Homo sapiens: one gene and its partners. The protein of the gene in region 2 interacts with the protein of the main gene of each other region in a pairwise test. Each region holds a gene or a part of one and is shown on either strand. Other genes may lie near its edges.

Region 1 (3,500 bases), on a different chromosome or scaffold from region 2:
ATCTGGAAGAGGGCATCGGGAAGAAAGGGCAATCGCAAGAGGGCTGAGAAATGCCCTTCCCACCAGGGTGGTACATGGCACCTGAAGTCCAAACTCAGAGTAAGGCCAACCACACACTGGAAGGCAGTCTTCTGAGAAAGAGGAGCAGCTGACCTAGACAGCAGGGTCTATAACATAGTCACAAGCAAGAAAAACACTGCAGTATCATGGGGCCAAAGACGTATTTTTATATGAACACTGTCAAGGGTGACGCTCAAAAAGAGCATAGGAGTATATGGAATTTTTTTTTTTTTTTTTTTTTTTGAGACAAGAGTCTCACTGTCGCCCAGGCTGGAGTGCAGTGGTGCTGTCTCGGCTCACTGCAACCTCCGCCTCCTGGGTTCACGAAATTCTCCTGTCTCAGCCTCCTGAGTAGCTGGGATTACATGCACCAGCCGCCACGCACGGCTAATTTTTTATACTTTTAGGAGATACGGGATTTCACCATGTTGGCGAGGTTGGTCTTGAACTCCTGACCTCAGGTGATCCGCCCACCTCAGCTGCCCAAAGTGCTGGAATTACTGGCGTGAGCCACCATGCACAGCTGGAAATCGAATGTTTCAAAGTGTCATTTTACATCAAGCATAATAGATATAGCTGGTGGCCTTTTCAAGAAATATGGGCTCATCATGTGGGGAAAAAAGCTCCATAAGAAAACCCCACAATTTAAAAAACAGACAAAAAGTAAAGGTAAGTGTAATTTAAGAAAAGGAAAAGCAAATTCATACTAAATAAATGCTCAACTGCACTAGCTTCAGGGAAAATTAGTAATTTTAAAGTTTGATGTAGCCATTGCAGATAATGACATATTATCATACAGTGCTTCATCATTTCAAATTGACAACGTCTAAAAGGATAATTGTGTAAATCTTTCAAATTTACCTGTGTCTACACCAGATTATAAAGATAACAAGATGTGTCTCCTCTCCCAATAACAAGCATAATGGCACAAATGAAACAGAACAGTATGTGATATCCTGAACACATCACCAAGACCAAACACTCGGCATTTACTCACGAACTGTGATTTGGAATGCAAGGGCTTTCAAAGTATACAGCCTAACTAAAAGATGTCACCCTTGCTAATGAGAGTGGAACATGGAAGCCTCTGGGAAGAGAGTCAAGGGGAGCCTAACCTGGATTGCTCATTGCCCACCTCAAATTATTGACTATGTACATAAACTCCATCAACTTTTATAAAATAATCCTGAACGGCAAATGATTGGGCATAAATAATCCTATCCCCAATTCTCAAACTGTGCTTTGGGTCTGCAACAAACCCTGGGGTTTAGCCTCCACCTTAGAAAGTAATGGTCTCCGCCTCCCCAGGGCCTTATCTAAATCCCCTGCATATGGCCACTGCAACATGCTGATCTGGCAGAGCAAGGTCACAGCAGATTCTTCCTCTCCTGTCCACGGAGGGAATTCTGTGCTAACAGTTCAGAAGCTCCTCCTTGGAGAGTCAGGGCAAGTTTGTATTGTGTCTCTTGGGATAATGGGTCTGGGACAGCTCAATTACAGGTGGGGGCTTCTTATGCAATTCCATTCCCAACACTGGGTCAGGCTAGGCACCGCCTGTCCTTTTGTCTTTGACCATACCCTGGTCTTGCTCCTCACTCATGAAAAGTATCTGAAGGCCTCCCTCGAGTTCTGTTCCTAGCCTTAGGTCCAGCCATCGTTCCGGGTAGGGGAGATGAAGCCATAATCCACTAACCATTTTCTCCTGGACTCCTACCTCCAATGATTTCACCATTCCCTGCAGGAAACCCCACCTAATCACATCCTACTCCCTCCACCACAACTGCTATCCCCCTCCTTTGTAGAGACCTTGGCTTCCTTATCCACACAGCCTCTTTCTCTCCTCATTCTTCATAATCCAGCTTAGAGCAAGTATCATTTTACATTCCTTCCTCACAATACATGGAATTCATTCAATGAACTTCTTAACTGTACGCGCCCAGTAAAACCAGAGCTCTGGAAGATTCCAAACAAATATCTGACTACTCCATGGATGTACTGAGTGGCTCAGCTGCACACAGCCAGGCGAAACGGTGCCTCTAAGCTACAATTTCTCAGCCTCAGGACTACTGACATTTTGGACCAGACAGTTCTTTGTGTTGTGGAGGCAGGCCCAGGCACTGTAGGATGTTTAGCTGCATCCCTGGTCTCTGCCCACTAGATGCCAGTAGCACCCTCCACCTCCAGTTCTGACAACCGAATGTCTCCAGACATTCCCAAATGTTCTCTGGTGGCTAATGCTGCCCCCAAGTTGTGAAATACTGTAGAAATCAGGGTGAGGCCAGGCACAGTGGCTCCCACCTATAATCCTAGCACTTTGGGAGGCCGAGGTGGGTGGGACCACTTGAGATCATGAGTTCCAATAGACAAAACCTCTGTCTCGACTAAAAATACAAAAAACTAGCCGGGCGTGATGGTGGGCACCTGTAGTCCCAGCTACTTGGGAGGCTGAGGCAGGAGCATCGCTTGAACCTGGGAGGCAGAGGTTGCAGTAAGCCAAGATCGCACCACTGCACTCCAGCCTGGGCGACAGTGCAAGACTCTGTCTCAAAAAAAAAAAAAAAATTACCTGGACGTGGTGGTGGGCGCCTGTAGTCCCAGCCACTACGGAGGCTGAGGCAAGAGAATCACCTGAACCCAGGAAGCGGAGTTTTCAGTGAGTGGAGATCGCACCATTGTACTCCAGCCCGGGTGACGGAGCGAGACTAACTCCAAAAAAAAACCCACCACACAAGAAAAAAAAAAGAAAATCAGAGTGAACAGCCATAGAGTAAGCGGGCCCTCAATATCGCCCACTGTCCTACCCCAGCACCCTGCTTGTCCAAAGCCCTTCAGATGTCTGGGGCAGCCTTACAGACTCTCACCTCCTCTCCAGCTGGTTGACATTACTCTTGGAAGTGGACTTTGTGAAGTCAAGTCAGAGTCCAGGAGTTTGTAAGCACGTAGTGGGCCCCTTACAGCGGACATCGTGAACAACAGCTCTGCTCTGGGTCCAACCTCACATACCCCGGAGCCATGCTTTCTTCTTTTTTTCCTTTTCCCCTTTCTCCACTGAGCCCTGTCTACTTGGTAATTAAACATGCTCAGTTCTACCCAATCATGTCATACCTCCCCTGTGCCAACTTTGCCTCTAGCTACTTGTTGATTTGTTCAGCAAAATCTTGTCAAAAGGCCTCTACTGTCACTTCCACTCCCCTCCATTAAAACTGCATGATCAAGGCCACGTGTGGTGGCTCACCGCCTGTAATCCCAGCACTTTAGGAGGTCAAGGAGGGTGGATAACCGGAGCCAGGAGTTCAAGACCAGCCTGACCAACATGGTGAAATCCCGCCTCTACCAAAAATACAAAAATTAGCCGAGCATAGTGGTGGACACCTAGGTTGAGCGCAGTGGCTCACGCCTGTAATCCCAGCACTTTGGGTGGCCAAGGCAGGCAGATCATT
Region 2 (3,500 bases):
TCCTCACAGCAACAACTCAAATTCCCTAATGACTAATCTGTTCTTAAAAAAAAAAAAAAAAAAAAAAAAGAGAGAGATGGGGTTTCGCAGTGTTGCCTAGGCTGATCTTGAACTCCTGAGCTCAAGCAATCCTCTTACCCCAGCCTCCCAAAGTGTTGGGATTACAGGCGTGAGCCAGCACACCCAGACTAATCTGCTCTGAGTAACATTTTACCAAGCCAGATTTCTGAAACTTTTTTTAAAAATTAAAATCCCATGCACACACAAGTTACAGGCAAGCTTGAATGTACACTGGAAACGCAGACCTCTGTTGCTTTATTACTAATGGTGACAACTTTCCTACATCCTTTTACCAGCTTCTAGAACAAGGCACCCATGAAGAGGGCAACACACATCATGCCCCACTGCTCCCTGTGCACCGGAAGAAGGGCCTGATCATCAGGGACAGCCGCCTTTCAAGCCTGACAATGATGTCTGTCCTTGTACCATTTTCACATCCTTTGTTATGGCAGACCCGCAAAGGAAGGTTTATACCTAAATCCCTAATGACTTCTCAGTCCAAGAAAGTTTCTGTGTAAAAAAGCAGCAGCTTTCCTGCAGTGAAGGGGAAGGTCAAAGAGTCACCAACACATAAAGGATTTCAAAAAGGAAAATTTACAATTTCTCATGCACACTCTACAGCCCTGCTGGTGCCCTGGGCCAAGTGCTGTGCTGGAGGCACTTCTAAAAGGCAGGATTCCCACATGATGAAGTGCCAGGCTCTGGAGCCAGACAGCCTGGGTTCACATGCAGGCACCACTGTTTACCAGTCACTTGACCTAGGCATGTCACTCTCTGTGCCTCAGTTTCAGATGAAACAAGGATAGCAGTATGTACATATCATGTGGTTCTCACAAGGACTAAATGAAATACTACATTGTTATTATATTATTATATTTCTGCTAAAAAGTTGGGGGCAGGTGCCGAGCACGGTGGCTCACGCCTGTAATCCCAGCACTTTGGGAGGCTGAGGCGGGCGGATCACATGAAGTCAGGAGTTCGAGGCCAGCCTGGCCAACATGGTGAAACTCCGACTCTACTAAACATATAAAAATTATCCAGGCATGGTGGCACACACCTGTAATACCAGCTACTCAGGAGGCTGGGGCAGGAGAATCACTTGAACCTGGGAGGCGGAGGTTGCAGTGAGCCAAGATCGCACCATTGCACTCCAGCCTAGGTGACAGAGTGAGACCCTGTCTCAAAAAAAAAAAAAAAAAAGTTGGTGGAGGATTTGAATTATACTAAACCAGAATTTGCATTATGTAAATGCTAAATTAAAAGAGCCTGTGATTTTTATTAACGCCTCTATAGACAACTTGTAGCTGGGGCAGATGACCAAGAACAACCCTTTGCAGCACTCCCAGAGACAAACTTGATTACAAACTTTAAAGAATCCCTCATACTCGGAGACCATAACCACGAACGTGTACATGCTTTTTAACACTGTACTCGAAAATTACTGCAGAGCTTGGGAACACAGGACATCTCAAAAGACTAGCGACCAAGTGAAGTAAGTCTACTATTATGTCTAGTTTTTGAAATATTTAAGGCAATTCAAAAGACATTTGATTCGGTTGAAAAGCAGAAGTGAGAAACCACTTATTCAGTGGGTCTGCAGCCTAAAAGTCACCTGAGAGGCAACAGCCGGCAAAGGGTGAGTGAAAGCAGGAAGAAAACACGATGCTTACCATTTATCCTGCCCATGTTCATCCCAGATCCAAATCGACCCATGTTTTCCATACCACCACCAAAGGGCCCCTCCATTCCTGCAAGAGAGGTTCACATTTCAGCATCATCCAACAAGACTGCTTAGACTAAGCAGGGAAAGAAAAATTCTATCACATGTTTCAACTGGGGTATCTTCTGCCAAGAACTTACCAAGTTTAAAGGCTTTTGAAAAACAAAAAAAATGCTAGCACCCTTGTTTAAAAATCACCCATCTTCAAAAAGCTGGTCTGATCCAACCCCCTCAATGAATAGACAAGCAAAAAGAGGCATAGAGATGGAGTGGTCTGCCCAAGGTCACAGAGCTAGTTAGTGAGACAGCCAGAACCAAAAGCCAAGACACCCGCTGGAAGGATGGACAGGCAGGAGGAAGTCATTTCTAGACTCAAACTGAAACCAAAGAGAATTTCATGCAGGGTTTAAACAAGAAAGAAAAGAGGAAAGAGAGAAAACTATGCCTAAAAGTGATTATGCTTGTACTTCATTTTAAATTTCTTACCTCCCATTTTATTTATTCCAAATCCTATGCCTTCCATTCCCATTCCTTAAAAAGAAAAAGTCAATGCAAACTAAAATTATGTCAAAGCAGTAAATAACGTTTGAACTTAAAAAGCATAATTCCAAACCAGCAAAAGAACTCAAAAGAAAATCCCTGATGACAAGTATATTTTATATATTTTAATCAGCAAGAAAAAAAGCCCTTACCATTTCAACTGTCAAATATCATATAGCTATTTTTTTTTTTTTTAAACACAGTATTGCTCTGTCACCCAGGCTGGAATGCAATGGCACAATCTTGGCTCACTGCAACCTCCACCTCCCGGGTTCAAGCAATTCTCCTGCCTCAGCCTCCCGACTAGCTGAGATTACAGGCGCCTGCTACCACGCCTGGCTAATCTTTTTCTGAGGGATCTACATACTTTAATGACCCAGTCGGGCAGGGTTTTTGTGTTTTTTTTGTTTTTGAGACAGGGTCTCCTTCTGTCACTGGGGCTGGAATGCAGTGGCATGGTCACAGCTCCCTACAGCCTCAACATCCCAGGCTCAAGTGATCCTCTTGCCTCAGCCTCCCAAGTAGCTGGGACTACGCCACCACACCTGGCTGATTTTTTTTATATTTTGTAGAGATGGAGTCTATGTCGCCTAGACTAGTCTCAAACCCTCGGCCTCCAAATTGCTGGGATTACAGGCATAAGCCACCACACCAGGCCTCAAGTTAGGCAGTATTAAACATGAAATAGAATTATAAGACACATTCTATGGAACATAAACTTTTTAGAAAATTTTAGGGAACAGAAGTAGATTTTTTTTAAGAATCCCTGTTAAGGGTGGGCGTGGTGACTCACGCCTGTAATCCCAGCACTTCAGGAAGCCGAGGCGGGTGGATCACCTGAGGTCAGGAGTTCCAGCCCGGCCTGACCAACATGGTGAAACCCTGTCTCTACTAAATACAAAAAATTAGCTGGGTGTGGTGGCACATGCCTGTAATCCCAGCTACTTGGGAGGCTGAGGCAGGAGAATCACTTGAACCCAGGAGGCAGAGATTGAGTGCGGTAAGCTGAGATTGAGCCACTGCACTCCAGCCTGGGCAACAAGAGCAAAATTCCGTCTCAATAAATCAATCCCTGTTAAAGGTAAAATCTTCAAAATAAAAACCAGTTCCTAAAAACACCAAGACTTCCTCCCCAACCCCCAGTCTTTCTGTTTAGATGTCAGACATGGGGTGTGTGTGT
Region 3 (3,500 bases), on a different chromosome or scaffold from region 2:
GTGGATAAGCTTTTTGATGTGCTGCTGGATTTGGTTTGTGAGTATTTTATTGAGGAGTTTTGCATCAGTGTTCATCAAGGATATTGGTCTAAAATTCTCTTTTTTTGTTGTGTCTCTGCCAGCCTTTGGTATCAGGATGATGCTGGCCTCATAAAATGAGTTAGGGAGGATTCCCTCTTTTTCTATTGATTGGAATAGTTTCAGATGGAATGGTACCAGCTCCTTCTTGTACCTCTGGTAGAATTCGGCTGTGAATCCATCTGGTTCTGGACTTTTTTTGGTTGGTAAGCTATTTATTATTGCCACAGTTTCAGAGCCTGTTATTGGTCTATTCAGAGATTCAACTTCTTCCTGGTTTAGTCTTGAGAGCGTGTATGTGTTGAGGAATTTATCCATTTCTTCTAGATTTTCTAGTTTATTTGCGTAGAGGTGTTTGTAGTATTCTCTGATGGTAGTTTGTATTTCTGTGAGATCGGTGGTGACATCCCCTTTATCATTTTTTATTGCATCTGGATTCCCTCTTTTTCTATTGATTGGAATAGTTTCAGAAGGAATGGTACCAGCTCCTCTTTGTACCTCTGGTAGAATTCGGCTGTGAATCTGTCTAGTCCTGGACTTTTTTTGGTTGGTAAGCTATTAATTATTGCCTCAATTTCAGAGCCTGTTATTGGTCTATTCAGAGATTCAACTTCTTCCTGGTTTAGTCTTGGGAGGGTGTATGTGTCCAGGAATTTATCCATTTCTTCTAGATTTTCTAGTTTATTTGCATAGAGGTGTTTAAAGTATTCTCTGATGGTTGTTTGCATTTCCGTGGGATCAGTGGTGATATCCCCTTTATCATTTTTTATTGCATCTATTTGATTCTTCTCTCTTTTCTTCTTTATTAGTCTTGCTAGTGGTGTGTCAATTTTGTTGATCTTTTCAAAAAACCAGCTCCTGGATTCATTGATTTTTTGAAGGGTTTTTTATGTCTCTATTTCCTTCAGTTCTGCTCTGATCTTAGTTATTTGTCTTCTGCTAGCTTTTGAATGTGTTTGCTCTTGCTTCTATAGTTCTTTTAATTGTGATGTTAAAGTGTCGATTTTAGATCTTTCCTGCTTTCTCTTGTGGGCATTTAATGCTATAAATTTCCCTCTACACACTGCTTTAAATGTGTCCCAGATATTCTGGTATGTTGTGTCTTTGTTCTCATTAGTTTCAAAGAACATCTTTCTGCCTTCATCTCGTTATTTACCCAGCAGTCATTCAGGAGCAGGTTGTTCACTTTCCATGTAGTTGTGCAGTTCTGAGTCAGTTTCTTAATCCTGAGTTCTAATTTGATTGATTGCACTATGGTCAGAGAGACAGTTTGTTATAATTTATGTTCTTTCACATTTGCTAAGGAGTGCTTTACTTCCAACTATGTGGTCAATTTTGGAATAAGTGTGATGTGGTGCTGAGAAGAATGTATATTCTTTTTATTTGGGTTGGAGAGTTCTGTAGATGTCTATTAGGTCCACTTGGTGCAGAGCTGAGTTCAAGTCCTGGATATCCTTGTTAAGTTTCTTTCTCGTTGATCTGTCTAATGTTGACAGTGGGGTGTTAAAGTCCCCCATTATTATTTTGTGGGAGTCTAAGTCTCTTTGTACATCTCTAAGGACTTGCTTTATGAATCTGGGTGCTCCTGTATTGATTGGGTGCATAGATATTTAGGATAGTTAGCTCTTCTTGTTGAATTGATCCCTTTACCATTATGTAATGGCCTTCTTTGTCTCTTTTGATCTTTGTTGGTTTAAAGTCTGTTTTAGGCCAGGCACGGTAGCTTACGCCTATAATCCCAGCACTTTGGGAGGCCGAGGCAGGTGGATCACGAGGTCAGGAGTTCAAGACCAGCCTGGCCAAGATGGTGAAACCCTGTCTCTACTAAAAATACAAAAATTAGCCGGGCATGGTGGCACTTGCCTATAATCTCAGCTACTCAGAAGGCTGAGGCAGAGAATTGCTTGAACCTGGGAGGTGGAGGTTGCAGTGAGCCAAGATCGCACCACTGCACTCCAGCCTGGGCGACAGAGTGAGACTCTTTCTCAAAAAAAAAAAAAAAGTTTGTTTTATCAGAGACTAGGATTGTAACCCCTGCTTTTTGTTGTTGTTGTTTTCCATTTGCTTGTTAGACCTTCCTCCATCCCTTTATTTTGAGCCTATGTGTGTCTCTGCATGTGAGGTGGGTCTCCTGAATACAGCACACTGATGGGTCTTGACTCTTTATCCAATTTGCCAGTCTGTGTCTTTTAATTGGAGTATTTAGCCCATTTACGTTTAAGGTTAATATTGTTATGTGTGAATTTGATCCTGTCATTATGTTGTTAGCTGGTTATTTTGCTCGTTAGTTGATGTAGTTTCTTCTTAGCCTCGATGGTCTTTACAATTTGGCATGTTTTTGCAGTGGCTGGTACCAGTTGTTCCTTTCCATGTTTAGTGCTTCCTTCAGGAGCTCTTTTAGGGCAGGCCTGGTGGTGACAACATCTCTCAGCATCTGTTTGTCTGTAAAGTATTTTATTTCTCCTTCACTTACGAAGCTTAGTTTGGCTGGATATGAAATTCTGGGTTGAAAATTCTTTTCTTTAAGAATGTTGAATATTGGCCCCCACTGTCTTCTGGCTTGTGGAGTTTCTGCCAAGAGATCTGCTGTTAGTCTGATGGGCTTCCCCTTGTGGGTAACCGGACCTTTCTTTCTGGCTGCCCTTAATATTTTCCCTTCATTTCAACTTCGGTGAATCTGACAATTATGTGTCTTGGAGTTGCTCTTCTCGAGGAGTATCTTTGTAGCGTTCTCTGTATTTCCTGAATTTGAATGTCGGCCTGCCTTGCTAGATTGGGGAAGTTCTCCTGGATAATATCCCGCAGAGTGTTTTCCAACTTGGTTCCATTCTCCCCGTCACTTTCAGGTACACCAATCAGATGTAGATATGGTCTTTTCACATAGTCCCATATTTCTTGGAGGCTTTGTTCGTTTCTTTTTATTCTTTTTTCTCTAAACTTCTCTTCTTGCTTCATTTCATTCATTTGATCTTCAATCACTGATACCTTTTCTTCCACTTGATTGAATTGGCTACTGAAGCTTGTGCATGCGTCATGTAGTTTTCGCGCCATGGTTTTTAGCTCCGTCAGGTCATTTAAGGTCTTCTCTATGCTGTTTATTCTAGTTAGCCATTCGTCTAATCTTTTTCCAAGGTTTTTAGCTTCTTTGCGATGGGTTCAAACGTCCTCCTTTAGCTTGGAGAAGTTTGTTATTACTGATCCTCTGAAGTCTACTTCTGTCAACTCGTTAAAGTCATTCTCTGTCCAGTTTTGTTCTGTTGCTGGTGGGGAGCTGTGTTCCTTTGGAGGAGAAGAGACACTCTGATTTTTGGAATTTTCAGCTTTTCTGCTCTGGTTTCTCCCCATCTTTGTGGTTTTAATCTACCTTCGGTCTTTGATGTTGGTGACCTACAGATGGGGTTTTGGTGTGGGTGTCCTTTTTG
Region 4 (3,500 bases), on a different chromosome or scaffold from region 2:
AAACAACCAAACGAAGCATGTCAGGGCACCCATGGTCAAGGGCTAAGCCAACGCTGGTTATGTTTTAACACATCTTGGGTGTATTCCCAGCTGTGCCAGTCTTGCTGCAGGAAGTAATTTTCACTCGTGGCTGAAAACATAGCATGTTAGCAGGTGGTTTCTACATAAAACCTTTAGGACAGTTTTAGGTGAATGCTTGCTCTTATTGGAAGTTCTGGTTGATTTCAGGATATCAGAGAATCAGTGGGTACATTCTGAGAGGTTGTAGGGGACCTAAGGGCAGTTGACACATTTTGCAATATTTGGGCGAGATTAATGGAATTGACAAGAGGTGGTCTGTGAGTGGAGAGCTCATTGTTCGGGCCAGGGCCAGCTAATTTGCCTCTGAATCCTGCTTTCCATTTGAAGATCTCTGAGTGTTTTCAAAGCACCGCCTGGGAGCAAACTCATTACTGGGGGGAGAACATTTTATCCCAACGTAGCAGATGGTGGAGCTGCAGGTAACCGCCACATTGGAGGTCACAGAGTGGAAAGACAGTTCTGGTTTCCTGACTGCTCTGTAAGTTAAGTTTGGGCCTGAGCAAGGATGAACGACTGAGAAAACAGTGTGCATGGAATGAATCCAACTGCCTGGGGTGTGCGATCCTTAAGGAAGGAGGGAGCTTATTAAAGGGAAGTCAGGGGGTAAATTACAACCCACATCAGGCAGCTATGAAGGGAAGGACAAAGGACGAATATGTGGGAGACAAGTTCAGGTCCCAGCATGACCTCTAACTTGCCAGGTGACCTGAGCAAATGGAGTCCCCTGTACAGGCTTCTGTGACTTAAGCCATAAAGCAAGGGAACTGAAAAAGAAGGTCTCTGTAGCCCCTTCCAGCTCTGGGATTCGGAGATTCTAATATTAGTAAAAAATAAGCCGGGACTTGACACCTAACTTGAGCATTAACCTCTGGCACCAAGAATTGGTATCTTAGGCTGGATATCCCAGAAGCAGCCCCTGAGGCAAGGATTGATGTGCCAGTGATTTATGAATGAGGCATTCTCAGGAAAAACCTGGAAGGCAGCAGGGGAGGCTGGAGGGAAGGGGAGGAAGCCAAGCCAAGTTGTATCCTCAGGCAAAGTCCCTCAGAGGGGAGGGACCCTGGAATATAAGTTATGCCTGGCTCCAGGCAAGGCTGCGGGGCTTGGTACTCCCACCATGTCTGTCACTGGTTAAGGTCCGTTGGGGGTCTAGTTGGGGCAGGCATACTTCTGGCTCTAACAGATTCAGGTGCTGGCTGTTAAAAGCAAAACCACTGCCATCACCGCCACCCCACCACTCCCAGCACACAAGAATTAGTGAAAAGGGATCCAAGGAGATCTGGCTCAGCACAGACATGAACAGCTGCTCTTGGGTTCCCAACAATACAACACAGCAGCAGAGTTGAGGTTCTGCATGGGGGTCTCATGAATGTTTGAAGCTAAATGTCGGAAAAGAACTGTAACAGGCAACTCAGCCATTGGAAATCCTCACGGGGACAAGTTATCCTAGGGGTGAAGAACTCAAACACATTAGAGGGCCCGTTCAGTTACTCCTCCAACTTGCCTTGTTAAAAGATCCTGCCAGATATACTAAGAATGCCAGTAAACAAGACCTTGGCTAAAGGACCATCCCTGACGCAAAAGACAATTTTTCTCCTCTGTCAAGAGATGTCCCATCTTAAGCTCTCTGCTGCCCATTTTAATAACAATAATATAAATATTAAAGAATGGCTGGAAATGCCTGCACTAATGCAGAGTTAATTAACATGTTGCCTAGGAATGTGGCAGGGAGAAGAATTATTTCATGTCACCAAGACACAAGTTAATTAACATTGGGTTCTCCCAGACTGTTTTTTTTTTCCTCTCCTTTTTGAAAATGGAAAGGATTAACAAGCCCAGGCAGCACTGGTTTTATTCCTGAATGTTATATAAAACGGTAGAGATAGGGAGAAGCTGGGGCTCTTCTGACCTTACTCTATCTGCACTTCAGTTAATAAGATTCAAATGATTTGACAGGGATGGAGTCAAGGGTCCGATGGGAATCATTTACCCGTCTGCCCTCTCACTGACTTGGCAAACTGGGAGTGAGCAAAACCAGGTCTGTATTTATCCAAGTTCTATTTTCTGTGACTTAAAAAAAAGAAAACTGACCAAAATTATAAGCATGATCATTGCAAAATCCTACTTATTTTCTCGGAACCACCATATCTGCAAGGACTGCAAGAACTTTATCTGGGAATTCAAGGACAAAAAGCTTCTTCTAACAGTCTTTAGGTAAAGCTTCCTTCACTGTGAAACTGCCTGCAGTTTTTTTGGTTTTGTTTTGTTTCTATAATGTAAAATGCTCTGAGGGCAGGTTTGGGAGGAAAAGCTGGCCCAGCAGCCAAGGGCGCTGAGGTCTCAACAAGCTTCCATGGGTTGGATGGTCCTGGTGTATCAGGGAAGCATGCTTCACAGACCCTCTGCTCCAGGAAAACGGAGAAATACTGACAGCTACACAGTTGAGCAGATCTGACAGTAGAGGGCACAGAGACAGTTACCTCCACAGCAGCTCATCGGAAACTAGAAACACTAGTACATTCTAGGCAAAGGCTTTCACACAGTGCTGGAAAATTCGGATGGCCAATAGGATGGCCCAGAGCATGGGAGATGTCCTCAGCTCCTGTCTTACTTGGTGTTGTCGAGTTCCTATTTTACTCTTCCATTCTTCCATCCCTTTGCTCATTAGATTGGAAAATAATGATTATGTAAGAGCAGCTAACATCTATTTGATCCATACCAAGCCAAGTAGTTTATCTGCATTATTCCATCAAATCCTCCCCACATCCTTAGAGGTAGGTGCTATTATCATCCCCATTTTACAGATAAGGAAATCGAGGCTTAGGAAGGTTAAATAACTTGCCCAAGGCCACCAAGCTGGGAAGCAATGGTATTGGGACTCAAACCTCCAACTGCCTACAGGGCCTTTGCCTTTCTGCTCTTCGAAGACTGCCTTCCTGCTATGAGTCAATGCTTGGAGCTCCATATGCTTTCTATTTTTAAATTTCTCATCATATAATACTGGAGTCATACAAAAAAAATTTATAACATACATATATGTTCTGAAGCATTCAAATGAGGTCCTCAGAGCCCACCTCCAAACTTAGAAACACTCCCAGTCCCTCTGATCCTCCGTGTGTACTCCTCCTCAATCCCATCCCCTAGCTTCTCCCGCTCCCCAAGGGAAGCACTTTTCTGAATTTTGGGTATACAATTCTCTTGCCTTTAAAGATATTAGTATTTTACCACATAGGAACGTAACCCTGAGAACATGCTTCTCAAACAGGAAGAAATGCCCTCTGCTTCTCAGCACAGGAGCTGAGACTCAGCCTCTGCAGTCTGACCTCTTTCTATAGGTGGTGTCCGAGCCTGGAGCAGGGTAAGGGGCAACACACACCGACTGCAGATGTCCATGGACCACCCAGCCTCCCTTCCGAGGG

The links. Proteins that work in one complex are often made in the same cells at the same time.
Region 1: the proteins of HNRNPM (region 2) and HNRNPF interact in binary tests that used the Homo sapiens proteins (3 or more experiments, as listed by UniProt).
Region 3: the proteins of HNRNPM (region 2) and TSGA10 interact in binary tests that used the Homo sapiens proteins (3 or more experiments, as listed by UniProt).
Region 4: the proteins of HNRNPM (region 2) and LMO2 interact in binary tests that used the Homo sapiens proteins (3 or more experiments, as listed by UniProt).

What each region holds. Positions count from the first base shown.
Region 1 is NC_000010.11:43,388,687-43,392,186, forward strand, and holds part of HNRNPF (heterogeneous nuclear ribonucleoprotein F), read right to left. Parts: intron 1-3,500.
Region 2 is NC_000019.10:8,472,475-8,475,974, reverse strand, and holds part of HNRNPM (heterogeneous nuclear ribonucleoprotein M), read right to left. Parts: intron 2,312-3,500; coding exon 2,267-2,311; intron 1,809-2,266; coding exon 1,731-1,808; intron 1-1,730. UniProt on the Homo sapiens protein: Pre-mRNA binding protein in vivo, binds avidly to poly(G) and poly(U) RNA homopolymers in vitro. Involved in splicing.
Region 3 is NC_000002.12:99,001,443-99,004,942, reverse strand, and holds part of TSGA10 (testis-specific gene 10 protein), read left to right. Parts: intron 1-3,500. UniProt on the Homo sapiens protein: Plays a role in spermatogenesis. When overexpressed, prevents nuclear localization of HIF1A.
Region 4 is NC_000011.10:33,861,077-33,864,576, forward strand, and holds part of LMO2 (rhombotin-2), read right to left. Parts: intron 1-3,500. UniProt on the Homo sapiens protein: Acts with TAL1/SCL to regulate red blood cell development. Also acts with LDB1 to maintain erythroid precursors in an immature state.